2 separate regions of the Homo sapiens genome follow, and region 1 is linked to region 2. Evidence: fine-mapped expression QTL. Tissue or cell type: hippocampus. Region 2 holds a variant in brackets; the other region holds the start of a gene. All regions are shown on one strand. Distances are between the middles of the regions. Region 1 holds the start of HHATL (hedgehog acyltransferase like). Region 2 holds the start of CCDC13-AS1 (CCDC13 antisense RNA 1).

The links. PIP is the estimated chance that this variant, and not a neighbour inherited with it, causes the effect.
Region 1: it holds the start of HHATL, and the variant in region 2 is the best candidate, but not a certain one, in a credible set for the expression of HHATL in hippocampus (GTEx, PIP 0.50).

Annotation. Positions count from the first base shown.
Region 1 is chr3:42,693,921-42,709,051 of GRCh38, forward strand. HHATL (hedgehog acyltransferase like) reads right to left here and starts at 8,878. Exons shown (of 12, transcript NM_020707.4): 1 at 8,659-8,878; 2 at 6,801-6,919; 3 at 5,838-5,905; 4 at 5,112-5,225; 5 at 4,788-4,982; 6 at 4,222-4,431; 7 at 3,588-3,759; 8 at 3,081-3,225; 9 at 2,922-2,957. The coding sequence starts at 6,906. CCDC13 (coiled-coil domain containing 13) reads right to left here. Exons shown (of 16, transcript NM_144719.4): 16 at 11,836-15,131. The coding sequence ends at 15,060. HHATL-AS1 (HHATL antisense RNA 1) reads left to right here and starts at 8,621. Exons shown (of 3, transcript NR_146957.1): 1 at 8,621-8,809; 2 at 10,229-10,312; 3 at 12,127-12,845. RefSeq lists an enhancer at 2,504-3,106 and a silencer at 7,594-7,663.
Region 2 is chr3:42,727,383-42,742,513 of GRCh38, forward strand. CCDC13 (coiled-coil domain containing 13) reads right to left here. Exons shown (of 16, transcript NM_144719.4): 9 at 12,252-12,428; 10 at 8,325-8,531; 11 at 6,088-6,227; 12 at 5,505-5,588; 13 at 3,085-3,207. It overlaps CCDC13-AS1 (CCDC13 antisense RNA 1), which reads left to right and starts at 5,193. Exons shown (of 4, transcript NR_046732.1): 1 at 5,193-5,276; 2 at 13,593-13,705. RefSeq lists enhancers at 3,063-3,562, 4,915-5,209, 5,739-6,424, 6,425-7,108, 8,481-9,166 and a silencer at 4,915-5,209. The variant C/T (reference allele first, on the strand shown) is at 7,647.

The sequences.
Region 1 (15,131 bases), 33 kb before region 2:
GGGTGCATTCAACATTCCTGACCTCACGTAGCAGCTCCTCCTCCAACCAACTTCAAATTGTGGCAGGCTCAGCCTGGGACATTATAGCTTCTCTATCTCTGTTCGTTTACTTCCCAAATGATCTCATCCAGACCCAAGATTTCAAGTACTAGCTCTATGACGATGACCCCTAAATCTGTGTCTTTAGCCCAGTCTCTCCTGATTTGTATATGCAATTGCTACTAGCCATGTCACTTGATTGACAGATTCCCCTATCCCTGCTCAAACCCAGCTCCGTCCTCATCTCAGTGAATGGCACCACCATCCATTCAGTTGCTCAGGGTATAAGCCTTGGTGCCATCTTGGATTCTCAGTTTGCCTCATCACCCACATCCAAGCAAGCCAGCAAATTCTGTTGGCTCCTCTCAGTCCTGACCACCACTCACCTCCTCTACCACCACCACCCTAGTCAAGATGATCACTCTTCTCACATAAATTATTGCAAGAGCCTCTTAAGTGGTCTTCTTGTTTCTGCTTTTGCCCCCATGGTTCATTCTCCACACAGCAGCCAGAGGCATCTTTTAAGAGTGTAGCTCAGGTCACATCACTTCCATGATTAACCTCTCTGAATAGCTCCCCATTACAATAGGAATAAACTCAGTCTCTTTACTCTGGCTAGAAGATCCCAAGTGGTCTGGTTTCTGTTCCCTTCCTGACCAAATCAGCCACCATGCTCCCCCAGTTCATCATGCTGGCCTCACTGGCCTTTCTTACCTTTACACCCACACAGTTGGTTTGTGTCTCAAGGCCTTTGCCCTTGTTGTTCCCTCTACCTGGTATTCTCTGCTCCACATCTCCTTATCACTCAAATCTCAATTCAAATATCATCTCCTCAGAGAAGCCTGCCTAGACCCCGACTAAAGAAGCTTCTACCCTGTTGTCAACTTCTATCCCATTGCAATTTTATTTTCTTCATAACACTTACCACTCTCTAAAATTATCTTATTTATGTTTGTTTACCTGTTTATGGTCTGTTTCTCCCCACTAGACTGTAAGCTCCATGAGTTCAGGGTCTTTGCCATGTTCACTGCTGTATCCCCAGTGCCTAGAACAATGCCTGGCACATAGGTGCTCAATAAATATTTGTTAAATAAGTTCTGTGGAAGACCCAGGAATAACCAGCCTCTCCATTCCTCGACCTCCTCATTTCCAATGGCTTTTTCTCCACTCCACCTCAGCCACCCACACCCATGGCCATGCCCCAACTTTGTCACCACTTGAAAGTTCACTCCTTTCTAATTCCCATTCTTTGCCCAACTCCTCTTGACCTCCTGGCCCCCCAGCTTCAGTTCTTCAATCCCATTGATCTTGTGACCCTCCCACCTTCACCACCGTCCTTAGCAGGCTTATATCCAATGAGTCATGACTATAAATAATCTAAAAACCCTTATTCCTGACTTCTTCCTTGTCATCCATCTGGGAGAGCCCAATCACTTACTTTCTCCTCAGCTACACCCAGGCAGCTAAGCCCCATGGGGGAAATCTCACATCTTCACATGCTGGAGTTCATAAGCCCACCACCTCCAATACCACCTGGGTACTCAGTGCCAAGATTTCTCTAGTCAGCTGCTTCTCCCTTGCTCTGCAAGGGCCACTGTATTCTTATCTCCCCACAAGTATGAGTGGAGAGATAGTATGAGTGGGGGGATCCAGGCTGGGTTGTGGGGGTAAGCATATATGTTGCCTCTCTCCACGTCCCTGTCCTGGCTTTCTCAGCTGATGGCCGTGCCTCCTGCTTCATGGACAAGGCTGAAGCCTTCAGGTGGAATCCCTTACTTGTCTACATTAACCTGCTTTCCTCTGCATCCACACTGGCTTCTCTTCCTCCTCCTCCCACTGAAGCCAGGCCTCCGCCTGGAACTAGACACCCTCACCTCCTTCCTCTTCAGGGACCTCACTCCATCAATCACCCCTGTATCCTGCATCCCCAGCTTCTCTGTTGAATAATTCTTCTTAGCATGTCCCATTCTCTCCTATCTTTAACACATCCCTCTTCTCCCTCAGCCACTCCTGTCTTCCCCCTGCAGTCCCAGGCTTCTTCCAGGAGTCATCACACACTTCTCTACTCCTCAGTTGACTTTCCCTCCTTACCTGCTCCTGCCTTGCCCATGAAAGGCTGAAAACCTCCATGTCACCAGCACTAATCCTCGGTCTCCAGCTTCCTTGAGGCTCAGTGGCATCTGACCAAGCTGTCCCCACCATGCCTGGATGGTCTTCCCTTGGCTTCCAGGGTGGCACATGACCTTGATTCTTCTCCTGCCCCTCCAACTACTCTTTCCAGTCCTTTCTGCTGGCTCCTTTTCCTTCCAAGCAGAGCTCTTGCAGGCTGAATCTCGGCCATCCCCGTCTCTCCTCTTCTCACACCACTCCCTCTCCTGAGGACTTACCCACTCCCAAAGCCTAAAAACCACCTGCCCACACTCAGGACGCTCTGAGTTCCATCAGTCCTCTGGACCCTCAGAAACCCAGACCCTCAGACCCAACCACCTCCCTGAACCTCCACAGGGATGTCTCCTAGATTGCGACTATACATTTCTTAAACTGAAGCCCTCTCTGGAAACTGCCCTCCATCCTCCCAGGCTGCAGACAGCAATTTGAGCGTCATCTCCTTCTCCTTCCCAACACCCACAGTTCATGGCCACGTCCTGTTCAGGCTGCTGACTGTGTGACCCTCCTCCCACCACCTCTCTCCACCTCGAGGGCCCTCACTTAAATCCTAACTTCTATATCTTTCACCCAGACCTCTGCCAATACCTCCTCACTGCCCTCTTTGCTTCCCCTGGCCCAGGGGTGATCTTTTAAAATGTGGACCCATCTTGGCACTGCCCTGCTCAGACACCTGGCAGGATGGCTGTGACCACCCCCACCCCACTCCTACTCACTTGCAAAGCCAGTCGTTGATGCCACGGTCAAAGTGCCTGTAAGAGGAAAGCAGATGGGCATGTTGCCATCAGGCGCAGAGCTCCCCAGGCATGGGGGAAGAGGCTAGGGGAAGGTGTGGTCCCAGGGGGTGAGCCTCCCCCGTCCTGGCCAGCACTCACGTTTCCGCAAAGACGTAGAGTGCGGTGATGCACTTGGGAGGCTGGGGTGGGTCCAGGTGGTCGAGGCATGCCACAGTGTTGACAACACCAAAGAGGACGGCCGCCTTCACCCAGTCATACACCAGGTTTGAATAGGCTAGGCCAGCTGGGGGCAGGGCACTGTCACTGCCTGGGGTCCAATCGCCTGGGGCCTGCCCCCATGAAGACCCTGTCCCACCACTTCCTTGGGGAGACACCAGGCTCTGCCCGCCCCACGGAGACCCCCCCATATTGTGGAAATCAGTCATGCCTGGTGAAGTGGGTGGGGTCCGTGGGATGCTGCTCTGGCCCCACAGGATGAAGCTAATGCCAAGACCCATGCATTAGAAAGAATAAGCCCCTGCTCCCACGCCCTCAGGTGCTGTGCCCTGCGTGCCTCAGCTCCCCTGACTGTGGCACCGTGGGGGTGCAGAGGGTCTGTTTTCCTGGGGCGGCAGCCCTGCCCCCATTTCTCTTCTGTGGACCCACCGAGGGCACTGTCTGGGAGGCGGTTGGCGAACTTGAGGTCGCTGGGGATAGTGAGGATGTAGAAGAAGTGAAAGAAGATGTCGACGGCCATGATGGCCACCACGCTTAGGCCTGCCTGGGCTCGGATGTGCCACAGCTCACCCTCGCGTCTCACTGGCTCCACCTGGCTCACCTGGGGGGATGCGAAGGGTCTGAGGGAAGAGGCAAGCCCTGCCTGGGGAGCCCTGTCTGAGGGGGGCTCACCAACTACTTGGGGCAGGAGGAGCCATGGCTTTATCCAGGAGTCCTGCCTGAGGGTGGAGACAGAGGTCACCCTGGAGTCTGAGGAGGATTCACAGCCAGCCATGGGAGACCCAGTTCTGTCCTGGGAGCCCCATTTGAGTGGGAAGGGAACATTCGTGGCCTGGGAGTCCTGTCTGAGAAAAGAGACATGTCTCCACCCTGGGGTCCCTGCTGGAGGGGAAAGGTGGCCCCATCCTGGGGTCTGAGGAGGGAGGGGAGACACGGCTTCATCCTGGAATCATGCCTGAGGATGGGGATACAGCCTGCTTGGGGAATTCTATCTGAGATGGAAACCCCAATCTGAAAAGGGAGATTCAGCCCTGTTCTAGAAGCCCACAGGGTGTCCCCTCACCTGAGCATGGAAGCGATCAAAGGTCATGATGGGCCCGAAGAAGAAGAAGGGCAGGTAGAAGTTGTACTTGAGCAGGTCAGCTAAGGAGTAGTGGCGGTCAGGGTGGGCACAGCTCTCCAGTGCAAAGCTGGTGCAACGCAGCACTGTGAAGCTGCTGCCCCCATGAAACAGCACCTCTTGAAGATCAAAAGTGCCTGTTACAAACCCGCTCTGGAGGGGGAAAGAACAGGCCACCAGCTCACTAGGGTGCCTCCTGTCTCTGGAAAACCTATTCCCCACTCCCTAGCTTCCCACAGGGGCCCAGCCTGGTCCTGTCCCTTCCTCTCTTCCAGAGCCAGTTAACTTTGGCCACTGCTCTATCCCAGCAATGCGAGGAGCAGGGGATGATCTGGATAGTTCCTCCTGTGATGCAGGTGCTCACCTTGTGGCCAGGACATACCCAAAGGCTTGAAGACAGGTGGAAAGTGAAGGGAATACTTGGGGATACTTGGGGTGCAAGGACTTTGGATGAAGTGAGAGGTTTGGGATCTTATCCCTACACCCTCTACCCCTGCACCAGTTCACACCTGCCAAGAGATTAGGGGGTCCATCTTGAAGGAGGCCAGGCTGGCCAAGCCAAGGCCAAGACAGAGCCAGGGCTGGCCCAAAAGCGAGGCCACATAGAGGCCCACACAGTGACCAAGCAGCAGCAGCAGGTACCAAGGGCCCATTGTGCCCATCACAGCCAAGGCCCCGTACACAGCATACATCCAGGAGCGGAGCTGTGGGCAGGGAGAAGGCTTCAGTTTCGCCATATAAATGGGGGCGTGACCCCAGGAGGGGGTTCCCACAACCCTTGTGGTGAAAGAGGAGCTGGCAGGGAGAGGCTGGGTGGCCCAGGTCCAGCTCACCTTTGGGGCAACCATCGTGCAGAGTTTAGCAAACAGCACATGTCCGGAGAGGGCAAAGATGATGACGTTGCGAAAGGAGGTGAACCACATCACCCACTCGAAGTCAGCCACATCCTGGGGCAGTCCGGGGCAGAAGGAGGTGGGGCAGGTGAGGGTGGGAGAGGGGACAGGACGAGCTGGAACCTGGGCTGGTCAGAGCCCCAGCACCTTTCCCAGCCTTCATGTTCTTCTTTTATTATTATCATTTTTAAATTTAATAATAATAATTATTTTTTACCACTAGCCAAACCCAACGTGTCCTCTTTATGCAAACACAAGAGCAGTGCCTGCAGGTCTCCACACTCCTCTGTGAAGGAAGTACCGAGGCAGGAGGGTAGAGAGGAGTGAAGGGCACCATGGGGGCTGCCGGGTCGCTTGAAGCTCCCCCTCTCCTCCGCACGTTGCCTGCCATTCCCCCTTTACTGCTTTGTTTCTGGGAAGGAGGTGCTGGAGGCTCCACTGAAGCACACTCCACTAATGCGACCTATTTCCCAAGTGAGCAGGGCCCGGGCAAACTTGATGTCCCAGGAGGATACAGGAGGGGCCAGTAAAGAAGCTGAAGGCACTGAAGCTCAAGCCAGAGGCCCCAGAGCTGTGAGAAGCTCTCTGTTACTTGCCAACATCTGGAACAGCAGAGAGCAGAGAAGGGTTCGGGATGGGAGGGACCCTGGGATGTGGGGGACCTACCATCTTCCGGCCAATGTACTCCCAGCCAGGTCGCACAGACTCCCGGAAGGCCTTCCTGTGGGCCCCATCTGAGAACAGAGTGTGGCCTCAGGGAGAGGGGCCTTCACATCCCCTGCCCCACCTTCCCCCGTGGACAAGGCTGCCCCACCCTGGGGAGCGAGGGCATCAGGAACGGGGCACGGGTCTGAGTCTCTTTGGTGCTGCATCTGCTTCTTTCTGGGTCTCGCTGTGTGTCTGGGTCCAGGACTCTGTGTGTGTGTGTGTGTGTTGGGGTGTGTGTGTATATGTCTGTGTGTTTGTGTGTGTGTCGGGGTCCAGGTCTCTGTGTGTGTGTGTGTGTGTCGGGATGTGTGTGTGTGTATGTCTGGGTCTAGGTCTCTGTGTGTGTGTGTCTGGGTCCAGGACTCTGTGTGTGTGTGTGTGTGTGTGTGTGTTGGGGTGTGTGTGTATATGTCTGTGTGTTTGTGTGTGTGTCTGCATCCAGGTCTCTCTCTGTGTGTGTGTGTCTGGGTCCAGGTCTCTGTGTGTGTATGTGTGTGTGTGTGTGTTGGGGGGTGTGTGTATATGTCTGTGTGTTTGTGTGTGTGTCTGGGTCTAGGTCTCTGTGTGTGTGTGTGTGTGTCGGGATGTGTGTGTGTGTATGTCTGGGTCTAGGTCTCTGTGTGTGTGTGTCTGGGTCCAGGCCTCTGTGTGTGTGTGTGTGTGTGTCTATGTGTGTGACTCTGTGTCCATCTCTCTGTCAGTGTCTCTGCATCTCTGTGTTCCTGTGACTGAACCTGGCTCCACCCAGCCTCCAGTGACTATCTGAGATGGGAACCCCGGGCTGAAAAGGGAGATCCAGCCGTGTTCTAGAAGGAGTACCCTAGGTCTGGAGCCTGTAACTTTCTGGCTTTGCTGGTTGGAACCCTGAGGCCTCCAGGGGAAGAAGGGTCCTGTCCACCTGCCCCGGGGCACAGCCATTACCTTGTGAAGCCTCAAGGAGGCCCCGGCCAGCATAGGCCAGGGCCCCACTCAGCACCAGAGAGTAGAGGCCCAGCTCAGCCGCCGGCAATGCTGTCTTGATGCCCATAGCCTGGACAGGGCTGGGGAGACAGGTTGGGTGAGGGAATTACAGTCTCCAGCCAAGCCTAGCCCCACCTCATGGTCCCACCACCCCAGTGGGGACCCACTCTGAAGAGAGATTGCCCCTCCAGCCCCTTGGGGACCTTGTACCATCACTCTGCCTGCCCCTGTGCCCCCCACAGTTCACAGGCCACCGAACACCAGTGCCCCATCCCAGCTGCTGCTCTTGCCCCCACCCCACCCATCAAGGCTCTTGCCCGCAGAGCCCTCACTCGCAGCCTGCCTCCCTCACCTTCATTTACATCTTCATACCTTCCAGAGGCACCGGCCCCACCCTCTGCCAAAACCGCTCCTGCCAAGGCCCCCATGACCTGCGTGCGGAGAAACCCCACCTCTATCACTACAGTCAGGTTTCTGCCTGCAGGGTCCCCACCTCGATCAGTGAGTCTCCCTTAGCTCCTCACAAAGCCCCAGCTTCTCTAAGACCCTTTCTCTGACTCCCACTCCCCTCCCTGAGATCCCATGACCACCCCAGGTGCTGCCCCTAGAGCCAAGCCTCCATCCTCGCATTAAGCCTCCAGCCTGTCACTGACCCCCATTCCCCCAACAAGTCCCTGAGCTCCAGCCTGTCACATCCCAGTCCCTGCCTGTGTCCGTGACCACACTGCCCCACTCTCTCAGCGCTCTGTGTATTCAGGCCCTGGGCACCAGCTGGAGGCTGTGCTATTTGAGGAGGTGCCCAGGAGTAGCGGATGTGGGGCCAGGCGGGGCCAGGCGGGGCCAGGGAGGGCACTGGCTGCTGTCCAAGGTGCTGACCAGAATCAGGCCCCGGCTGAGTCTCACCACTCCCTCCAGCGGGGGCCTAGCTTGTCCCCTGGAGAACTGCTGGGCCGTACTACGGCTCAGCTAGCACCTTTACCCTTCCTATCCCGCTTCAGCCTGGCTCAGGGGCTTCCCAAGGACTCCATGGATACAGACATAGGACCCAAATTAAAGGGAGGAAGCAGGGAACATGTCCAGGCAACTCTTGGGCTGACGGGGCCAAGAGGTGGCTGATGTGGCCCTTTTGCCCACCCTTGATCCTCCCCTAAATCTTCATCCCCAGCCCTGTAGCCATCTCCCCTGGGCCCCCCAGCAGCCGACGGTCTCCTCGTACAGATGGAGGGGTCATGGGCCAGATAGGGGCAGGGACCTGTCAAGGTCACATGGCAGACCTGGGACAGACTTCTGCCTGCCTCCCTTCAGGATTGGGTTTCTCAGTGACCCCCCTCTGGAATCTGGGGTAAGAGAAGACCACCACTGCCCCTGCCCACAGCAGAGGCTGCCAGCCTGATGGCTGTGCTGTCGGCCTGAGGGTGGAGGCACCTCCTCATCAGTTGGGTGGGGGTGGAGAGGCCCTGGGGATCAGGTTAATGGAGCAGGAGCTTGAAACCGGAGCATGGTGAAGAGCCCGTGAAATAGCTTTGTCAGCTGCCTCCCACTCGCCACTTTCCAATTTTAGCTCCCCATGGCCGGTGCGGGGTGTCCCCAGTGAGGCCTCTGCAAGGAGCTGGCCCCCAGCCTGGGGCCTCTCCTGATAGACCCCCAGACCAGGGCTGGCCTGTGGACACGGGGGCATACCCTTTCCCCTGGTCCTGCCTGCCCCAGATGCCCCGGGGGTAAAGCCCCTTTTGGGGCCTGTGATTTGGGATGAGGGCCTGGGGTGTGCCCCACAAGTCTCAAGAGCCCCAGAGTAGCTGCATCCCCAGCTGGCACTGACCTTGAGGAGGCCGCAAGGGACCCTGGCACACTGCCCACCTCAGGCTCTGGGGTCCGGCTTCCAACTGTCCGTCCGTGCGACCGGCTGAGCTCTGGGGCCACGGTGGGGTGTGTCCAGCCCTGGGGTCCCCACCCCCTTGAGGTTATGAGCGGTGAGTGGTGACAGCGGGAGGAGGAGGGGGAGGAGGAGGTGGCCTTCCTGGAGCGGAGCTGAGCAGAGTGGAGCAGAGCCGAGTGCTGCAGAGCTGCTGGCCACAGGGAGCCGCAGGGAGGATCCTTGAAGGGGGGCGGGTGCTGGGTGGGGGGAGGGTGTCCAGTAGCATAGGCTCAGACAGGGACACCTGGGCCTCTCTTCAGCCTGCCTCCCCTGGCTCCTAGAGAGCCTGTGCCTCTCTCTCACTGCTACCCAGGACTTCCCTCTTCCAGGAAGACTCCTGGTGGTCCCACCAGCCTCTCCAGGCTTGTAAGCCCTGCCCCCACCACAGACACACACAGTCACAACATGCAAACACTTTCATGCTTGGGCTCCAGGGACTCCAGCTCCTACCTTTACATATGACCTCCTAAGGGCTATCCCAGGGCAGACTTGTCTCGCCCCATGACCTGGTCCTTTTCATTATGCCGTGAGTCCTGGCTGGCCATGCATCAGTGCCTGAGGGAGGGCTGACTTGCCTGATGGGACTGGAACTGGCATGGGACATGTGGCTGAGAGGGATCCCCATAAGTCAGCCCTGTCCCATAGGGAGTGTCCTGGATGGAGGGGTGCTAGCAGGGTCACTTGGCAAGGCTTGTGGGTACTTGGAATGGCTGGTATCCTCTCGGTGGCAGAGTGGAGGCAGACAGGAAGACAGGTGTGTTCCTAACCAACTGGGAGTCCTGGTAGGACAGGGCCCTCATTCTGGAAGGGAGCATCCAAGGCCTCAGCCCTGGATACCTGAGGGGAGGGGCATCCTGAAGGTGCCCCTGAGATTAAGAACCTCTGACAGTGCCCCTTCGGTTGAGGCCAAGTCTCGGGCAGCTGTATGTGTCTGTGCTATCTAGGGGGACCTGTTCACCTGTGTGCTTGTGGGGAGGCTCTCGGGGGTAGAAGGAGCTTTGTGGCTGTGATCAGTCACAGGACAGCTCCTGGAGCCCCTGCTGATCCTATGACCCCAGCTTCAGGCTCAGTTGAGGAGGCAGGAGGGAGGTGCTGCTCCCCACCCATCAGGGCCCAGGAAGGGGAGAGACTGCACTTAGGCAGGGAGCTGCCTCCCGAGCACATAGACACGCTGGCCTGGAGAACAGCAAGGAGACGCCCAACCTACACACTCCACACAGGACACAGAGGCCCGTGTCTGTGGTCCCCGACCCTGAGAAGCATGAATGGTGACTACTGCACAGTGTGGGTGCTGGGTTAGAGCTGTGGTGGGTAATGGGCACTAGAGAGGCCAGCATCAGGAAGGGAAGGATACCTGAGCCAGACTTCAGGGTTAAGGAGGGCTTCCTCAGGGAGGGGTAGTCAAAGGTTGTTAGGAGTAAGTTAATCATAGTAGCCAGGATGTACATGGATTAACTTTTTAATGTCACCACAGCCCATAGGGAAGATGTTGCCACTGTACGCAGTTGGGAGAAGAAGGACCTGGCACATGAGGAAGCCAAGTAGTTGGATCAGCCCTGTAAGCTCCTGGCACTGACTGCCCTGCAGGGGCGACAACCCCGTGCACCCACACTGGGGCCCTCACGAGGCTCCAAGAAAATGGCTCAAGGGAGCAGACAGGGTGGTTTGACCCCAGAGTTAAGAACACAGGTTCAGCCAATTTACTTGACCCTGAGCTGGTGTGACCCACTTCTTAGGGCCTCAGATCCTCAGTTGTAAAATGGGCATACCGCTGGCCCTGGCCCTCACTGGGGTGGCAGGGGGCATCCGGTGATTCACTCCATGACAAGAGCCTTGCTCATAAACAGAGGCTATTAGAGAGCCACAGACACCCTGACCCCCAGAGGCCCAGAAAGGCTGGATTCACACTCAGAAGTGAGGCCTTCCCTGGGTGACCCACACACAGCAGGGTCTGCAGGGAGTGTGGTGTGCGGAAATGGCAAGAGGGGTGGAGGGCTAGGGAAGTCCCATGGATCTGTGGTTGGACAGCCTGAGGCCAGCTCCACTGTGTCTGAGGGGGGTGGCAGGGGAGGGCACCTGGCAAGGCCAGCCCACGTGAGGGACAGGAAGCTGACTGAGCTAAGACCAGCACTTGGCCCTGGGGCCAGCTTCCCAAATGCCACAAGGGCCACTAGGAAAGATATGGTGGGGAGTGGGGACAATTCTCTCAAATCTGAGTCCCTTTTCAATTTTCAGACTTTTTTTGTTTGGTTGTTGCTCAAAGTAAAAATGCGAGGAAAGTATCCTGTGTGTTTGCATGTACGTGTGCAACTGTGTTTTGTATCAGTTGTGTGTGGGTCTGTGTGTACGTTTTGTGTTGTAGGTTGTTCATGGCATGTGTTTGCTGTGTATGTGTATCCTGTGTATTGTGTGTGCACATGTATCGTACATACGTGTGTATATGTGTGTTGTGTGTGTGCAAGGCTCACAGATATAGGAGAGTCAGTGTACGTAAAGGCACACCTGTGGGGAGAAGGTGGGCAGGCCGACTTCTTTGTGCTCAGGGCTGGCTGTGGGCTGGCTGGGGGTGGGGAGGAGAAGCTTGTTCTGGCCCCTGGGTGTGGGGGTGCAGAGGAGCACACCCACTGGAGGTCACCCTGCCCTGGGCTCCTGGGAGCAGGGGAGGGGCCCAGTGACAATGTAGTGTGTTTAAGCCTGAGCCAGGCTGCAACCTTGCCCAGCTCAGCTGTGGTGCCCCAGAGGCCCCTGTGGGGACAGTGGCCAAACTACGTCCACAGCTCAGCCAGGTCTCACCTGTCAGTGCTGGAACCTGAGCACCAAGACCTGCAGCACCTGCCTGGGGTGTGGCAGGGAGAGCCCTCACTTGAGGCAACTTCACCACTTAACTCTTTACTTGCCCCTGCCCCTCAACCCGCCAGGGCACCTGCACCCTCCCCTCCAACTACCTCCTCGTGGATCTGGCCAGGGCCCTTGGTGTCTTATCCAGCACACCTGTTGCCCACCTGCCTGAGGGACAGGGAGGTCATCCTCAGGGTGCCCAGGACAGATGGTGCTACCCAGGAGAGGCACTGGTACTAACCTGGACAGACCAGCTGCCTGGCTGTGCACCTGGCCCACCTAAGTTAGGTTTCTCAGGGTCCCTATCTTTGACCCCTTTGATGACCTCCTTCCCTTGAAAATCCTTCTCCCAGGCTCTCCCCACCTTCCCTTTACTCCTCCTTGCTCCTTTGCCTCAGGGAGATGTGAAGCCCCCTCTCTACCCAGATCTGATCAAGGAGGTTGGGAACTTGGGAACTGCCACAGGGATGGGGTGGGGATGGTGGGGGAAGCCCTGTGGTGCTGCAGCCCGGTCCTGCATCCTTCCCCACCCAGCTCCATCATGGCGTTTCCCACACCTCTGATTGGACTGGAAACTCCCTGAAAGGAGGAAGCAAGTCAGATTCACCTCTAGGTCCCTCCCAGGCCTGGAGAGGCTGGCATGCTGTTGGCACTCACTGACTGCCTGGTGGCCGACTGGCTGGATGGAATGGTGACCTGTGACCAGTCTGTCTCTCTCCTCAGCTGATCTGAGAGTTCCTGGAGGCCAGGGACTGTGTTTGCCTCACCTCGGCACCTCTGTGCCTGGGGCAGAGGAACTGCTCAACAAGTTCTGGTTGAACAAATGGAGGGAACACTAAGAGCGAATAATTATTAAGCGCTTACTGTGTGCGAGCAGCTGCTGTAAGCAATGGACACTTTATCTCAGTGAACCCTGCAGAGGGTTCCAATGAGGGAATGGAGCAGACCTGATCTAACCAAGCTAGGGGTGGGGAGGTGCCCGGTGGTAGGTGCCAGCAGACATGACAGGCACTCCCGCACATGGCACCACAGCAATGCTGTCAAGGTTGCCCGTGGAATCTGAAAGCTGAAACACTCATCTTTATATACAGAGTTGGCCAAAGCAAGACACCAGCAAATCAGTTTACCCAAAAATGTGCAAACAAGATTTCCTGTGCCTGCCTGTCTGCAGTTTTTCTTTCCCCTCTCTCTTATATAACTCTTGTTGAAATCAGTCTATAGATACATGTTCCTTGTACAGAAATAAACAGAGAGCTAATAATTAGTGAAACGTCTTTGGGTTATTCTTTGACATACATATTAATAACAGCCCCCTGAGGGAGGATTCTATTATTGTCTGCATTTTATAGATGAGAATGTGGAGGATCAGAGAGGTTAAATAACTTGCCCAAGGCCACACAGCTGGTAAGTGGGGAGAGAAGTATGCCCCAGGCAGCCCCACCTGTCCAGACTCCATGACCTAATGCTCCTTCCTTTCTCAGGCATAGCCCAGGAAGGGCAGCAGAACCACCCTGAAGTGGCTGGAGTGTGGGTCACACCATCTCTGCACTTCCCTGAGGTGATCTTGAGGAAGGATGGCTGATCCTATGCCTGCTTCTCACTCCCTGGGACTGCACTGAGGCCAGAGCCTGTACCCCTCATACTCAGATCACCCTCTGGAGCTCCTCAGGGCCTGCAGGAGAAGGTGCTGACTCCTCTGTGTTCAGACTCTACATCCAGCCCACCCCTCGCTGTCACACACTGTCCCCTCCAAGCACAGACCCTCTCTCTCCTGGCTCTCTGCCTGGCCGTTTTCCTTCACAAGGAACCAGAGAAAAACTCTTCCTTCCCAGAGACCCTTAGGACCCCACCAGAATCATCAGTTCATCCCGGTGGCCTTTGCTCTAACTTGCTGTGGGATCTCTAGATCCGTGTGACCCCATGCAGGGTCAGGGGCTCCCTGAGGAGTGGGGGCCAGCTAGGGTCCCTCCATAGCCCCATCCCCAAGGAAGGGGCTGAGAAGACAGGGTCCCAGGAGCCGCAGTGGCTTTTCCAAGGAAGGAGCTGACAAGATGCTCGCAGGAGCCCCAGTGGCTTTTCCTGGGGAAGGGGGTGTTTTCACAGTATGTGCACCTGCATTTGTGCATCACTGCACAAGCAACACACAAGTGGCTATGTCTTCACGTGTGGGAATGTGTGTCCACATCCACATGTGTGTGCTCATCTGCACCTGTGTGTCCATGAGTGTGCACACATGGAGGTGCCTGTGTGCACGTACAGTTGCATGCTCCTGAATTGAGGTATGTGTGTGCATCTGCATCTTTGTGTGGGGCTGTGGGTGCACCTGTGTGGCCAGGGTGTCGGAGTTGGGGTGTGTGGCTATGAGTGACCCTCCTTGGGGCCACTCCTTCCTGTAGCTATAAGTGCATAGTTACAGCTGAGAAAGGGCAACACTGACAGTCATAGAGGCCTGCGGATCTTAGGGTGCCCCTGCAGCATCCCTCCAAGTTCACCATGGCGAGGGAGGTGCACTGTACCTTTGACTGGAGCCACTACCTCAAAACCCTTCTGCCTGAAGCTCCAGCTGAGCCCCACCTCGGCCCTCTGCCACCAGCATCCATCAGCAGTCTTGGTGAGCAAACAAAGATGCCTCTTGGAGCTGCTGCCTAGGGGTGGGGTTGTTCAGTGGTGGGTGGGTGCGCCTACCCTGGGTAATCTCTGAACGGCAAGACCCTGGTTTTGGGGTCAGGCAGACTGCAGTTAAATATTAGCTCAGCTTCTTTCTGTGAACCTCAGTTTCTTCATCTGTCAAATAAGACAACAAACCCCTGGGTCATTAGAGGACTGAATGGGGTCAGGTTGCCACAGTAGATGCTCACTCACTGGGAGCTGCAGTGATTATGAAAATACTTATTATTATTACAAGTCCAAGGGTCTGCACCTGAGGAAGTGTCCTGAGGAGTGGGCTGACAAACTGGTTGAGAGCATAGTGCCCCAAGTCTGTGTAGGGTGTGGACGGCTACAGATGGAGCCGGGATGGGGGTGAGGGGATAGGGCAGGGCTGAGTGGCATGGGGGATATGCCCACTTAGGGTAACCAAGGGCTCTTCTGTGTGTGAAGCCATGGGGACATCCAGGGCTAGTACCTAGGATGAGGGCGATGAACACCTGCCCGAGGGACTGCATCTGTCCATTCACAGCCGCCTTGCCATCCCAGAGCTCTCGCCTCTGCCAGTGGGCTGCTGGGCCTCCCTGCTGCTGTAACCCAGCCAGCCCAGGGTCTCCTGCAGTGTCCCACCAGGGCTTCTCTTCTGCCTTCCTGGCCTGAGACATTGGTTTTGGTCATCCTTAAGGAGCCTCTTCTGGTAGAAGTGGTTGAGCTGGCTGCCCTGGGCTGGCTTCCCGGAGCAGATGGAGTCCTCAGACAGAGTCTTATCCTCTCAAGACCTGAGGCTGCCCACCCGGCCAGGCCGACACTGGGCTGTCATCCTATTGCTTGCCTGTCTTCTGCTGCCGCAGGGCCTGCAGGAAGACACTTTTCACCTGGCCCAGGATCTCATG
Region 2 (15,131 bases):
AGAAAAATAAATAAATAAATAAATAAAATAAAAATAAACAAATACTCAGAGAGTTTACTATTTACATGGCCTCACTGAACTAAAGGGCATCTCAGTAAGAAGGAAAGTGAACCTAGAAGGAAGATTGAGATACAAGAAGTAACAGTGAGTGAAGACATTTTCAAACATGTTGGCAAAAGGAAACGAATATTCACTATTCAGTATTCAAGACTTACTTTGGAGGGTTTAATTTCAGGGTTTAAAAAAAGAATGTGGAAGAGAAATATTAGGAAACAGTAACATGAAAGGCACAAACGGAGAAATCAAAGTTAAAACATTCTAAATGTATTCTTTTGCTTAAAGTGATAGTAGCAAAACCAACTAACTTTAGATTGCTGAGTTTGATGTTAAAAGTTAAGGGTGACCACTAAAAGAACAGAGATAGAATATCTAACTTCCAAACTTGCAAAGAAGTAAGAGAAATAAAACTTGATCAGTCCAATATAAGGGAAGAAAGGAGAAAAAAAGGAACAAAGAAAAATCATGGCAAATAGAAAATATTAATTAAAGTGATTAAATATTACCAAAATCAAAGTGGATTAAACGATACTGTTCAAACACAGAAATTCCCAGATTAAATTTAAGAACAAAGCCGACTACGTGCTTTTTAAAAAAGAGACATATTTAGTGACTTTTGTCATGGTGGACTAACCAACTCCTATTGTAAGTAACTAGAAAAATTGATAAAATGTAAGAAAGAACTTGTTTTCAGACAATGGACAACAGGACGACACACACTGGATACAAGACTTGAGGAAAGGAAGGACTTGAGCTTGGCTCGCCCTTGGCCTTGGCTTTCTGCCTGAGGCACTTTCCACTGCAGGGTGGGGTGGGGGCAGCCACGCAGAGCACCCTGGGATGCTGGGATGAGCACACAGGATTAGGGAACTGGGTGGGGGAGGGCAACTGAGGCAGCTGGAAATTGTAGGGCAGAGTAGAGGAGAAGGGAAGCTAGGCAGAGAAAGACTCCCCCCCACCCTCCCCTGTGCAAGGCTGGGACAGACTCTGCAGATAAAGAAAGGAGTAGATATTGAGGATCTCTGAGAAACGAAGGTCCTGTACTTTGGGATAGTTAAAACATTAGTTAAAACGTTTAGTTTTACTTTAAAATAGTTCCTTTGGTTTAATTGGCCAATCATCAGTTTTGAAAGGAATCATCATTTTTGATGATTGGCCAATTTAGTTATAACAAAATGGTTTTAGTTTAAAACATTTAGTTTTAAACCAAATAGATTTGAGGGAATTTGAGTGCAGAAGGTACCTGGGTTCCCTTTTCTTGTTACAGCCCAGGGACTTAGCAATAACCTCAAGGAAAAAAGGCAACAGGTGTTGGTTGATGGGCCTGGCACAGCCTCACAGAGCCCCAACACCCCAGGATGACACAGAGTAGCAGGAGGAACCCAAGGACCCAAAAAGGGCCAGCATATTCGCAGACAGAGAGTTGCATGTATGTGACTGGGTGTGAGCACCTCTTTACATTTCATACCCCAGGTGCCCTGCTTGCCTCACCCAATCCTAGCCCTGTGTGGAGAGGCCCTGAAAATGAGATCTCACATGGAGACAGAAGCCACATGAAGGAGAACTGAGGCATCCCTGCTGAAGTGCCAGCTGCATGAGACCAGTGAGTGACCCCAGCTGACATTATGTGGGGTAGAATTACCCAGCCAAGCCACAGAATCGTGAGAAAGCACAAACCATTGTGTTTGAAGCCACTAGGTTTGGGATGGTTTGTTATGCAGCAATAGCTAACTGAGTCACCTTTTTCACACACCCCCAAACTCGGATGTAACTCAAGAGAAATGAGAGAGAAAGCCTGCATTGAGTATGTTTCTACTACTTGATAGACTAAAGACTTGTACTATCCATTACATTCCAATTATAGAAAAAGAATCAATGTTGCTTTTCTCATATACTTGAGTATGTCTGAAATTCACATCATCTCTATGTACTATGTGAAAGCAAAGCTGACCACTCACTATTTAGGTAGCAGGCATCCTTTGTTTTGTCCTTCCCTGCACCCCTAGCTCCTTCTTTTGCTATCAGTACCCCCATTTTCCCTTTGGCAAACTACCTTTCCTGCATTCTGTGAGCACCCGGAGGAACTTCAGTCAGAGTGCCCTCACATGTGGGGTGGATACGGGCGCAGCACTGGCCAGTTCAACCTTCTCTCCCAGAACCCATGGGCACAAGAGCTAAAAGCCATTTGGCCATGCCATTTCAGTGGCCCAGGGAACTGCCTAGGGTTTCCTGCTACCAAAGATGCCTGCACCTTCTCAGGCTCCTCTCCTGCTCTCTGCATTGGAGTCTGCCAGTACCTTCCAAAAATCTGCCTTTCACTGAATTCAGCCAGAATTGCTTTCTATTGTCTGTCATCAAAGAGCCTTGACTGATACATGATATAGCCTGTTAGGGCAGAAACTCAGTGGTGTGCTTAATATTTTTCAGTGTGGAGGTCACATGGTTGAGCCATGTGTTGGCCTGGACACCTGCAATTCTTGCCAAAAGGATCATTTGAGCGAGGAGCACTGATTTATCTGAACGGAAGTCTGTCAACAACCCTTTAGAGAAAACCATACCTCCTGGTCCAGTGCCTCAGGCCTCGTGCTTCCCTCCCTGCCTCCCCAGCTATCAGCACCTCTCTTGTTCTTTCCAATTCCAGATGTCAGTCTAGCTTGTGTTTTCTTCCCACCAAACCCTCCAGCAGCACCAAGCACAGTGCCAGGCTCATCACAGATTTTAATTATTGATGGATTGATTTGACTGATTTACTTCTGGGTGTCTCTCCCCCGAGACTCCCAGCAATGTCCACATGCCATACAACAGTCCCATTGGGTGCATGTAGAATGGGGCTGTTCCTAAGGGCAAAACACAGTGTGACGACAAGGCCCCAAGGTTGTGGGGCGCATGAGTTGTGGCTAGGAATGCCCTGGACCAACACTGGGAGCCGAGCTCTCAGGTGAGGAGGACCCAGTCATAAATGAGGCCTGGCCCCAGTCCCCACCACATGCAGGCCTATGGGAGAGATCCCTGGGTGCCATGTGTTACCGTTTCTGCAGGACAGTGACAAACTCGGTGAGCCGGTCACGCTCCACCTCGGCAGCCTGCCAGAGGGCCTTGATCTCTGACACTTGTGCCTGCCAGCCTTTTTGTTCTGGGGAGTCCGAGAACCTGGGACCAGGGTGGAGGGCAGAGGGCAGAGGTCATCCGAGGCCTAGAAATAACACTTACCCCTGTGATGGTTGGAGGGACTAGAAGGACATTCAGGGCGAATGTCAGCCAGAGCAAAGGAAGCAAACCCAGTCCCTCTAGGTCCTCCCCTGCTGGCTTCTTTGCCCACCATTCCTGGTCCTGCTGAAGTCCCTAGGCTCCAAAGCTGAACCTACCAGAACTAGAGTTACACTGGTACCTCTGTCCATCCAAGCCCTGTGGGGGCCTGGAATTAGTCTGGTGCTGTGGCAGGTGGCTCTTGGGGACCTGGGGTGCCCTGGGTATCTGTGTGGCCTTTGGGGCCTGGCTGCCCTACCCAGTGTCAGGTGTGCCCAGTCTCTGTGTCCCTGCCAGTCTCTCCCAGCCCTCCTGCATCTTCTGGCTTGGTCCCCAAGCCCAGCCCACTTTCCTGGAGCCTGTGCATTTGGCTTTGTGACTTGTTCAATTTTCTCCAGCCCTAAGCCAACCCATCACTGCTTCCCTCTTACCTGCTGGCTGGAGCCAGGACAGAAGGTAAACTCTGCCCCCCAACTTCAACCCCCCAGAGCCCACATGTGAGTTCCAAGCTGCTCTCCGCTGTGCCCCCACTTTTCCCAGTGAGACCCTGAGCTTACTTTTCTAGCAGTACAGGGCATAGGGAAGGCTGCAGAGCTGGGCAGTGTACTGAAAACTGGGCTGGGGCATGTGATCCTGAGGGCTGACTTCTCGGTGGTCTTGGGCAGGTCTCTTCCTCTCTCTTGGCCCCAGTTCCCCCACTAAACATTGAGAGGGGTGGTTTAGATGGGCTCCGAGAACTGCAGACCCCTCTGTGACTCCTAAATATGCTCTAAGGCCTTGCTACTACAAGTGGTCTCTGAATCGGTGGCTCTGGCATCTCCTAGCAGCTTGTTAGAAATGCAGAATCCCAGGCTTTACCCCAGACCTGCTGAATCAGAACCCACACTTGACCTGGCTGATCAGCAGGGGCTCTGTGTGTGCACTGCAGTTTGGAAAGCCCCATTCATTTCCCCAGTTCTAGAATGTGGGAAGAGGAGGAGCAGGAGCAAAGGGCCGATTCTTCACTCTGCCCTCCTCCCAGGCACCCCACCAGAGTCACCTGAAGGGAATGGGTTCAAACCATGCCAGCCCGAATAGACATACTCTCTGGGATCACTCTGCCCTGTGAATTCCTGTCCTGTCACCTGTGGGAGGGGACTGTAAGCTCCATGAGGGTAGGGCCCACACATGGTCGAGTTTAGTAAGTATTTGTGTGTTGTGGAAGAAACAAGCCTGACAACCAGCAGTCTGGGCAGCCAAGGCACAGAGCAGCTCCTGTATTTCTGTGTGGCACAGAGGTCACAGCCACACAGGCCTGGAAGGGGCTCGAAGGGGTCATCTTGTCCATCTTCCTGCTCTCTTTACTGTGACTAAAACCTCAGAGAGGCAGAGCCTCCCCAATCTCCCTGTGCTGTGACAAGACCTCCCACCCTAAGGAGCGTGGCACATGCCTTGTGGCTCAGTGTCAGCCCACTCTCCCCAAGTGCCTTTATGACCCCAGCCTGATGGGTGGGGCAGCTTTGGCCCACAGACCCTATGCTGCCAAGTGTCAGCAGCATGCTGTCCCCCACTTTTCGGGGATAGCAGCCCAGAGAAGGACCAGTTTGCCTGGAGCCACAGAGATGAGGGACTGGGGCCACTTGGAGGCTTTGCCTGGAACCTGAGCTGACCTGCCTGAGGGGTCAGGGTGGGGAGTGTTGACAGCAGGAGCATGGCTCCAGTGGACAGTGGGCAGGGCTCGGGACAGGGCTTAGAGGCAGGACAACGCTGTCCTTTGTCTATGGGCTGGCAGTAGGAACAAAGGGCCCATTTACACCCTCTGGCTTGATTCTGTCAACAAAGAGGGGGCCCAAGGTCTGAGGGGATATCAGTGGGAACCCATATCATGTGAAATTCTCCCCTTAGAGGCTGATTCTCAATGAGCAAGAGAAGATGAGGGAAGGTGCTAGAAGCCAGGCCCAGGAAGGTTCCTCAGGTTAATTCTCACGTAGCAGGTAGGAACCCTAGCCTGGGAGTCAGAGGCCAAGATTCTAGTTCTGAAGCTGCTTACTCTATCATCTTGGACAGGACTTCCCTGATCCTCCCTGTCTTTATGTAACCTTGGAAGAGTCCCTGGACTTTGCCTGGCCTCAGTTTCCCCTCCTTTTAATGGGATGGCAATACTGGTTGAGCAATCAAGAATGGGAAAAAACTGTGAGAGTCCGGGGGTCGGGGGTCCATACCTAGGTGAGGTCCTGTGGGGACTGGGCAGGGAAGGCCTCGTGAGAGCAGATTCCACCAGTGTGTGGCCCAGGCTGGTCACAGAGCTGTGTAAAGGCGGAAGGGGCCCATCAGCCTGGGAAGGCAGACCAGGCCCTACTGGGCCTCACCTCTGCATGTGAGGTGGAGCAGTGGCCAGCAGGGGTCCAGGAAACCCTTGCAGCAGTCCTGTGGATTTGCTGCCCTTCTTTCCAGAACTCTTGTTTGCTCAAAATGAGACAGAACAGGAGACACCAGAGCCTTGAACAACCCAACACGGGTCTGTTTGAAGGCCCCAGGGGCAGAAAACTTTTGAGGCCAGCTCAGAAAGGCTCTTACAGAGAGCTGCAACCAGCATGCTCTTGAAGTGATAAAATCTGGGCCTAACCGGCTCATTTCTGCAGACGCAGAGCTAATGTCATAGGAGAGGCCCACGTATTGGAAGAACAACAGCATAGTCATCTTAAAATTGCACCTGTGGCTTCCCATCAGAGGTAGCAAGAAACAACCTTTCTTCCGAATAATTAATGTTCACTTTCCAACCCCTCCCTCCCATTGTTTTCTTACCGAGAAGATCCAAGCCTGCCAACATGATCGCCTGCTGAGGCCGGGGACTTGGTCAGGCCTGGGTCCTCCAGGAACTGGGTATAGGCAGGGCTGACCTCGCGGCCACTGGACCCCTCACCCACTCCTTTATTCCGAAGATACTGTAGGAACAGATGTGGGTTCCATCCTCAGGGCTTTGGCTCAGAGGCCTAGAGAAGGCAGGAGGGGATCTTGGCTTGATTTCGGGGCTTTCAGAGGATATGAAAGAGGCTTCTTTTCAGGAGTGAAAAGCGAGGCCTGTTTGGTGAAGGCACTACTTGCATGATAATGACATCTAATAATGCCTCTCTTCAGAAAGAAAGCTACATGGTGTGAGGACGGTGACTGGGCCAGGAAGCTGTTCTACATTCAGGTTCCAGAGGGAGGTGCACGGCCCTGCATGCGGGGCAGGTCAGAGACTGACGTCTCTGAGTGGGTCCGCTTCTCCAGGCGGCCCCACCCACATGTGGTTGAACACCAGGTGTGACTTGAGGCCAGCTGCCTTCCTCAGCTGGAACACCTGGACCTTCCAGACACCTGCAGCCAGAGAGGCTGGCAGGGACTCAGTGAGGGCAGGCAGCCTTGGGTGGAGGCTAAGCCTGCCAGGCCCCCACCCCTCCCTCAACCCCTTCCTCTTCTGGATACCTGCTGGGGCTGGACTGGACAGGAACATTAGAGGACCCCCAGCAGGAGGTCAGGCCACCAGAGTGGACAACCGGTGTAAGCCCCTAACAACCTGGCTTGTCCCCCAGCCCCACCCATTTTGAGAAAACTCGAAACGTGTGCCGACTTAAGTCTGGTGGGTAATGCTTGGCCCCCATTCAGCTGGTGACCTCGGAGGTAGGAACAGTCTTCTCCTGTGTGCCTGGAGAAAGGACAGTGGTGAGGTGAAGATGCTGGAATCTTCCCCTTCAGACTTCCCTCCCCAGTGAGCCAGGATGGGGAGCAGGGTGAGTCCCCATTCACTGCCGTATGTGCTCTGTTCCCAGACTTCCTTGTGCCCCCAGGCTCCCCTTCAGCCTCACAGCACTATGTCACAGCCAGTCCTGGGGCCCCAGGCTACCCTGGCCTGTGGGAATAGAGGCTACAGGACAAACCAGGCTGGTCAGCCAATGCCAGACTGAGGCAGGGCCGAGGGGCTCTTGGGCTCTCACCTCTGAACAAACCACGGATCCCCAGAAACAAAGAGCAGGGCTGCTTTGCAACATGCCTTTGGCTGAGCCAGTCAATTTCCCAGTGGGCCAGAGGCTGCAAGGCTCCTTTGTCACTGGGAGACCTGCATGCCTGTCAAGAAATTCTCCCCAAGGACACCACCCAGCCCCACCACCACCCCAGGGAGGTGAAGGTGCCTGACTCCTAGCAGCCCCAAGCTGTGCCCTCAAGGCACCTGCCAAGACAAAATATCTTTACAAGCTCATGCCTTAGACAAGCATTTATTGAGCATCTACTGTGTGCTTGCTCCAGTGCCAGGCACTGAGGCACCACGGTCTGTGCTCCCTTACAGAGAGTGCAGGGGAGAAAACAGGAAAATGACTACACAG[C/T]GTGAGAGAAGTTTGGTTTGGGGATGCATAGGGAGTTAGGAGAGTGCCTAGGAGGGGAACACAACACAGAACAGGGGTCCTGGGGCTTCCTGGAGGAGCTCCTGACTAGGTAAGACCTAAAGGCTGAGGGGCAGCCGGCCAGACCGAGGCCGTGGGGGAGGAGGGGAGGGAGTGTGCTTCACGCTGCGCGTAGCCCTGGAGTGCGGAGCAAGCAGGAGCTGAATGGTGCCTGGGTAGCAGAGTGTAGGGAAAGGGGAGGGGTGAAGAGAAGATGCAGGAGGGGTGGCAGCAAGAGTTAGTCACATGGTGCCTAGAAGCTGAATGAAGTGTGGCTTTCCTTCTCTCATCCTGCTGCTGGAGCTACTGCCACCATCTTGAATCCTGAGGATAAGGCCACAGCTGGGGATGGGAGAGGGTAAACTGGAAGGTGCCTGGGTCCTTGAGAACCAGGTGAGGTCGAGGGTGACAGTAAGCCATGAACAGATTTTAAGTAGAGCAAGGACACAATCAGGTTTGTGTGCAGAATGGGTTGGGGAGCCAGATAGAAGCAGGTGGCCAAAGTGGAGCCAGGAAGGATGAAGTCTGGCCTGAGCTAAGGCAAGTGGAAAGAAGTGGAAGGAGCTGGATGGACTTGCCCGGCTTGAAAATGGGTTTGGGCGCTGCCAGTGCCCTACTCACGTGCACATTGAGTTGTCCGATCTCCATCTCCAGCTGTCGCACTTTGGCCTCCCGCTCAGCTACCATGGCCTGCAGCTGGGCGACTAGGCTGTTGCTCCGCTGAGCCTCGCTGTTCAGTTGCTGGTCCAGGTGGTGCTGGGACACTCGCGTTTTCTCCTCCTGCAGACTCAGGCTGCCTAGGATCTCCTGTAGCTGCTTCAGCTGGTCCTGGGGGGCCAGGCAGGAGGGCAGGTGGAGTCAGTCATGGCCCTTTGGGCCGGGGAGGACAAGAACAGACTGCCTCCCTCACCCCAAAGCAGGCTGCAGGAACCTAACAGTGGGATCCTGTTCCCTCGAGAGGCAGGAACACCTTCCTTGCCTGCCATCAGGGGATGTTGAATCAGGCAGGTGGGGACCATGTTCTTTTCCTGTCCTCAACTTCCTTCTCTGAGTTTGGGGCCAAGAAGATCCAAGGGGCTCTCAGACAACAGAAAGTAGATCAGATGGTGACTCCTCACCCGGTGGGGGAGATATTTAGCTAAAAGAAAAGCCTGATCCTGCTTGGCTGGGAGACTGCCCTTGGAGGCAGTACCTGGACCCCTGCCAGGGATCCATTAGCACCTGACTGAAGCCTCATCCCAAGGAAAAGCCCTCAAGGAGACTCCTGGGCAAAGGCTTCCTGCCTAGGGCCAACAGAAAGGACAATGTCAGTGATTTGGAACAGGTGGGGGCTGTTGTCTTCACCTCAGAGTGGAGGAAACTGAGGCCCAGAGAGTCCAAGGGCATATTGCTGGTGAATAGCATGACTGGGACTAGTTTGCAGCTCTCATCATGCCACTTTCAATGACAAAGAATGGTGACATGCAGGGACCTCAGAGGACATCCAGCCCTGCGACTTATTTTTAAAACTGGCTGCTGAGCCTCAGAGGGGATGCGACTGGCCTATGGTCACACAGTGAGATACTGACAGAGGCAGGCCTAGATTTCTGGTCTTCTGTGCCCCGCTCACCACCCTATCATGTAAAGTGATCATGAACTAAGGTAGGTGCCTGAGCCAGCACCCCCCAAACACCCCAGCCAAGCCAGACATGATCACCCGCCCCGGGCCTGCAGGCACAACTTGGAATCTGACACCAAACTTTGGTGCCTCGGGTCCCACAGAGAAAAGTCCAAGCTGTAGGGTTAGGAAAGCAGTATGGCCTTACTAATCAAGGAAGTTTTTGTTTTTGTTGTTGTTGTTGTTTTATACATAAGTTGTAGGGTACATGTGCACAACGTGCAGGTTTGATACATAGGTATACATATGCCATGTTGGTTTGCTGCACCCATCAACTCATCATTTACATTAGGTATTTCTCCTAATGCTATCCCTCCCCCAGCCCCCCACCCACCGACAGGCCCTGGTGTGTGATGTTCCCCGCCCTGTGTCCAAGTGATCTCATTGTTCAATTCCCACCTATGAGTGAGAACATGCGGTGTTTGGTTTTCTGTCCTTGTGATAGTTTGCTGAGAATGATGGTTTCCAGCTTCATCCATATCCCTGCAAAGGACATGAACTCATCCTTTTTTATGGCTGCATATTATTCCATGGTGTACATGTGCCACATTTTCTTAATCCAGTCTATTACTGATGGACATTTGGGTTGGTTCCAAGTCTTTGCTATTGTGGATAGTGCCGCAGTAAACATACGTGTGCATGCGTCTTTATAGTAGCATGATTTATAATCCTTTGGGTATATACCCAGTAATGGGATTGCTGGATCAAATGGTATTTCTAGTTCTAGATCCTTGAGGAATCGCCACACTGTCTTCCACAATGGTTGAACTAATTCACAGTCCCACCAACAGTGTAAAAGCATTCCTATTTCTCCACATCCTCTCCAGCACCTGTTGTTTCCTGACTTTTTAATGATTGCCCTTCTAACTGGTGTGAGATGGTATCTCATTGTGGTTTTGATTTGCATTTCTCTGATGGCCAGTGATGATGAGCATTTTTTCAAGTGTCTGTTGGCTGCACAGATGTCTTCTTTTGAGAAGCGTCTGTTCATATCCTTCGCCCACTTTTTGATGGGGTTGTTTTTTTCTTGTAAATTTGTTTGAGTTCTTTGTAGATTCTGGATATTAGCCCTTTGTCAGATGGGTAGATTGCAAAAATTTTATCCCATTCTTTAGGTTGCCTGTTCACTCTGATGGTAGTTTCTTTTGCCATGCAGAAGCTCTTTAGTTTAATTAGATCCCATTTGTCTATTTTGGCTTTTGCTGCCATTGCTTTTGGTGTTTTAGTCATGAAGTCCTTGCCCATGCCTATGTCCTGAATGGTATTTCCTAGCTTTTCTTCTAGGGTTTTTATGGTCTTAGGTCTAACATTTAAATCTTTAATCCATCTTGAATTAATTTTTGTATAAGGTGTAAGGAAGGGATCCAGTTTCAGCTTTCTACATATGGCTAGCCAGTTTTCCCAGCACCACTTATTAAATAGGGAATCCTTCCCCCATTTCTTGTTTTTGTCAGGTTTGTCAAAGATCAGATGGTTGTAGATGTGTGGTGTTATTTCTGAGGCCTCTGTTCTGTTCCATTGGTCTATATATCTGTTTTGGTACCAGTACCATGCTGTTTTGGTTACTGTAGCCTTGTAGTATAGTTTGAAGTCAGGTACTATGATCCCTCCAGCTTTGTTCTTTTTGCTTAGGATTGTCTTGGCAATGTGGGCTCTTTTTTGATTCCATATGAACTTTAAAGTAGTTTTTTCCAATTCTGTGAAGAAAGTCATTGGTAGCTTGATGGGGATGGCACTGAATCTATAAATTACTTTGGGCAGTATGGCCATTTTCATGATATTGACTCTTCCTACCCATGAGCATGGAATATTCTTCCATTTGTTTGTGTCCTCTTTTATTTCATTGAGCAGTGGTTTGTAGTTCTTCTTGAAGAGGTTCTTCACATCCCTTTTAAGTTGGATTCCTAGGTATTTTATTCTCTTTGAAGCAGTTGTGAATGGGAGTTCACTCATGATTTGACTCTCTGTTTGTCTGTTACTGGTGTATAGGAATGCTTGGGATTTTTGCACATTGATTTTGTATCCTGAGACTCCTGAAGTTGCTTATCAGCTTAAGGAGATTTTGGGCTGAGATGATGGGGTTTTCTAAATATACAATCATGTCATCTGCAAACAGGAACAATTTGACTTCCTCATTTCCTATTTGAATACCCTTTATTTCTTTCTCTTGCCTGATCGCCCTGGCCAGAACTTCCAACACTATGTTGAATAGGAGTGGTGAGAGAGGGCATCCTTGTCCTGTGCTGGTTTTCAAAGGGAATGCTTCCAGTTTTTGCCCATTCAGTATGATATTGGCTGTGGGTTTGTCATAAATAGCTCTTATTATTTTGAGATACGTTTAATCCAGGAAGTTTTTATAGTCAGATAAACCTGCTTTGAACTCAGTTGTATGGTCTTAGATGAGTTATCTAATGAATTTGAGTCTTAGTTTCCCCATCTGTGAAGTGGGATTAAAATATATGATCCTAGAAGTTATCTTAGGGACTAAGCATTATAACATGCCCAGAAGAGGAAGGGTTCTGTGCCACTGCAGAGATAAGAACTGGTACTGGCTCCTCTTGTCCCTTTCATTCCTTGCTGAAAAATAACCCAGGGTATAATCCCACCTCCTTCCCCCAATACATTTCTGTCTCTTTTGGGGTCCATAGGCCCAGTGCCTTGTGCCTGGTGCTGCTCCATCACAGCCCCCTACCTGCCCTCAGGCAGCCTCCCTGAGCTGCTCCTGTCCCTGGGGCAGGGCTTTGGTACTGGGGGCCATCTGGAGGCAACGGGCTTTGGGGTTACACAGGTGGCATTGAGGGGTGAGTGAGGGCTCACTCTGGCCATGGCTGGGGCCCATCCTTTGAGGAACCACCCCTGGCTCTCGCCCTGCCTGAGTGGTGGGGCCATACCATGAGGGCGTCGATGAGCTCGTCATCATGCCGGCCCTTCTCCACCAGGGTTCCCATCTGACTCTTGAGGGTCTTCATCTCACTTGACAGCAGCTTGTTCCGAGACCTCATGCCCTCGAACTTCTTTTTTAGCTCTTCAAGCTCTCTCTGGAGGACATCCCGTTCACTGGCAAGTTTCTGTAATTAGAAAGTGAGGGCATGGGCAGCAGGGCTGTGTGGGACCTTGGCCACATCTGCTCCCTGGCTCCTACTCAATGGCAAGGCCCGGGGCTGGGGGTGGGGGTGCTTGTTGAATGCCACAGAGCAAGTCACTAGAGCCAGGGCCCTGACTCCCAGCCCAGGCCTCTCAGGGATATCAGGTGGCCAGCAGCCTCCCACCCTTCCCCTAGCACATGACAGCACTAACCCATGACAGCACTCCTAACCTCAGCCTGAGACACAGACTTCCTAGCACATGAGAGGAAAGCCGCCAGCCAACTGCGTGTGTCCTCCAGAGAGCACAGCCAGTCCTACCCCTAAGCCCCTCCCCAAGCAGGGGAAAAGAGAAAAGCCATACTTTAGAAAAAGAGTGCTGGGCTAGGTTCCAACTGCAGCACCTTGCACCACCAGGAGCTAGAATGAGAAAGGAGGGTCTTTTCTCCCACTTCCTCCATGATTATTTGGCACAACCCCTGACAGCACCTTGCTTTGTCAGCTACCAACTGGAAACTCACATGCAGCACACATCTTCGGAGTCTCTCATTCAATCATCCCTTCATTCTCGAGGGTTTCCTGAGGGCCTACTATGGGTTTCCTGAGGTTTCCTACTATGGTTTCCTGAGGGCCTACTATGGGCTTAGTATTGTTATAGATGCTGGGGGACAGCAAAAAGCAAAACAGTCCTTGTCCTCAAGGAGCTGATAATCCTAATGGAGGAGACAGATAATGTCAAATAGTGACAAATGCTAATTTGAAAGTAGGAAACAGGAATAGCGAGAAGGATATGGTCAGGTAAGGCCTTTCTGAAAAGGTGGCATCTGAGCAGAGACTGAAGGAGATGAAGGGAAGAGCAAAGGCCCTGGGGTAGAAGGTGTGTGGCTGGAGCACAGTGAGTGAAGGGGCAGAGGTTAGATTAGGCAAACCCATAAAGACAAGATGGAGACATTGGGGAGGAGCTTGGGCAGTGGGTGACATCACCTGCTTGATCCTGAGGGTGAATTGTTGCTGGAAAAGTATTTTCATATCCTTGATGAAGTGAATTATAGAAATGCAAAACAAGTAAAACATGAATCTATAGGACACAAGCCCTTTGCAGGGAGGCAGCCATTACTCACCTGTTGCTCTCCTGCCTACACACTCCAGGCTCTTATGGGTGCCTGCCAGAGGGAATGCATGCAGGAAGCTGTTTCCTTCCACCCGCTATTGCAGCTTATGGTCAGCCCAACTGTTCAACATAATCTGTTCTGCACTAACATGTAAGTTCAAGCTAGGTGCATTTCAAACCCAGCATTTCCAAATCTCAACTCCCTTTCTCTTCTTGAACCCACCCTGTCTCCCTTACCCACCCACTATACTCCCTAGAAGTCCTTTATAACTCTTCCTCCTCATCTCTCTTCCAAGTCCAATCAGTCCTTGAGCCCTAGAAAGTCTGTCCTCACTGTCCCAGGTGTCTGGCCCTTCCATGACAGTCCACTATCTTGGCAAAGATCTTTGGTCATGTCTCCAGGATTACTATTCTGCCTTCCATTCCTCTTCCAACCCATTCCTCCTCTTGCTCCAACCATGTGACCTTTCCAAAATGCACAGCTGACCACCTCCCTCCACAAATTAAAACCCTGTCGTGGGCTCGGCGAATGGCTCACACCTGTAATCCCAGCACTTTGTGAGGCCGAGGCAGGTGGATCACCTGACGTTAGGAATTTGAGACCAGCCTGACCAACACAGTGAAACCCTGTCTCTACTAAATATATAAAAATTAGCCGGGCATGGTGGCAGGTGCCTGTAATCCCAGCTACTTGGGAGGCTGAGGCAGGAGAATCACTTGAACCCCGGAGGCGGAGGTTGCAGTAAGCCAAGATCACACCATTGCACTCCAGCCTGGGCAACAGAGCGAGACTCTATCTAAAAAAAAACAAAAACCGTTTGGTGGTTCTCCACAGCCTTCAAGATACAGGCCAAAAGTCCTGGCTGGCATACAAAGCCCAGCAGGCCCTGTCCACTTCTGTGGTCTCACTGTTTCCCTCCTCACAGCTGATGGTCTACAGCGCTGGGAGGTGCAATGTGGTCATGGTTACAGCATTCCTAACACAGGGCCTAACCCAGCGTTGGTGCTCACAGGCAAAAGTCTCCAGATGAAAAGGCAAGTCCTCACTGTTAGGTAGCTCACTGCCAGGGCCACTACGTGGGCCTGTTGTATGGCCTGCCTGCACCTCTTCATGCTGCTTCTGTTACCTTCTTTAAAGTGGCCCCTACTCCCTACTCTCATTGCAAGTTTGGGGAGGCTAACTCATCCCCTCAAACCTTGGGGCAGGTGTCTGAAGCTTGACCAATCAAAACACCCTGTACTCTTGGCTACAGTGATGGGCTCAAGGATGGTCACATAACCCAGGCTAGACCAAAGACACTCAATTCTGGGACTTTGTTGGAACTATTGGGAAAGAGAAACCCTTTGTCTGTAGAGGCTGCATTGGAGGAGAGAAGCTGGGACTACCCAGGGTCCTTGTGGAAGAGAGTGAAGCCAACCCAGGAGAAGGTGCTGAGAGCAAGGCCCCGATCTGCACCTGAAGCTAGGCCACCTCTGGATTGTTCGTTTACATGGGCCAATGACTTCCCTTTGTTGCTTAAACCTGGTAGAGTTAGAGTTCTGACACTCCCAACGCAGCCAGTGAGATGCGGCCCCTG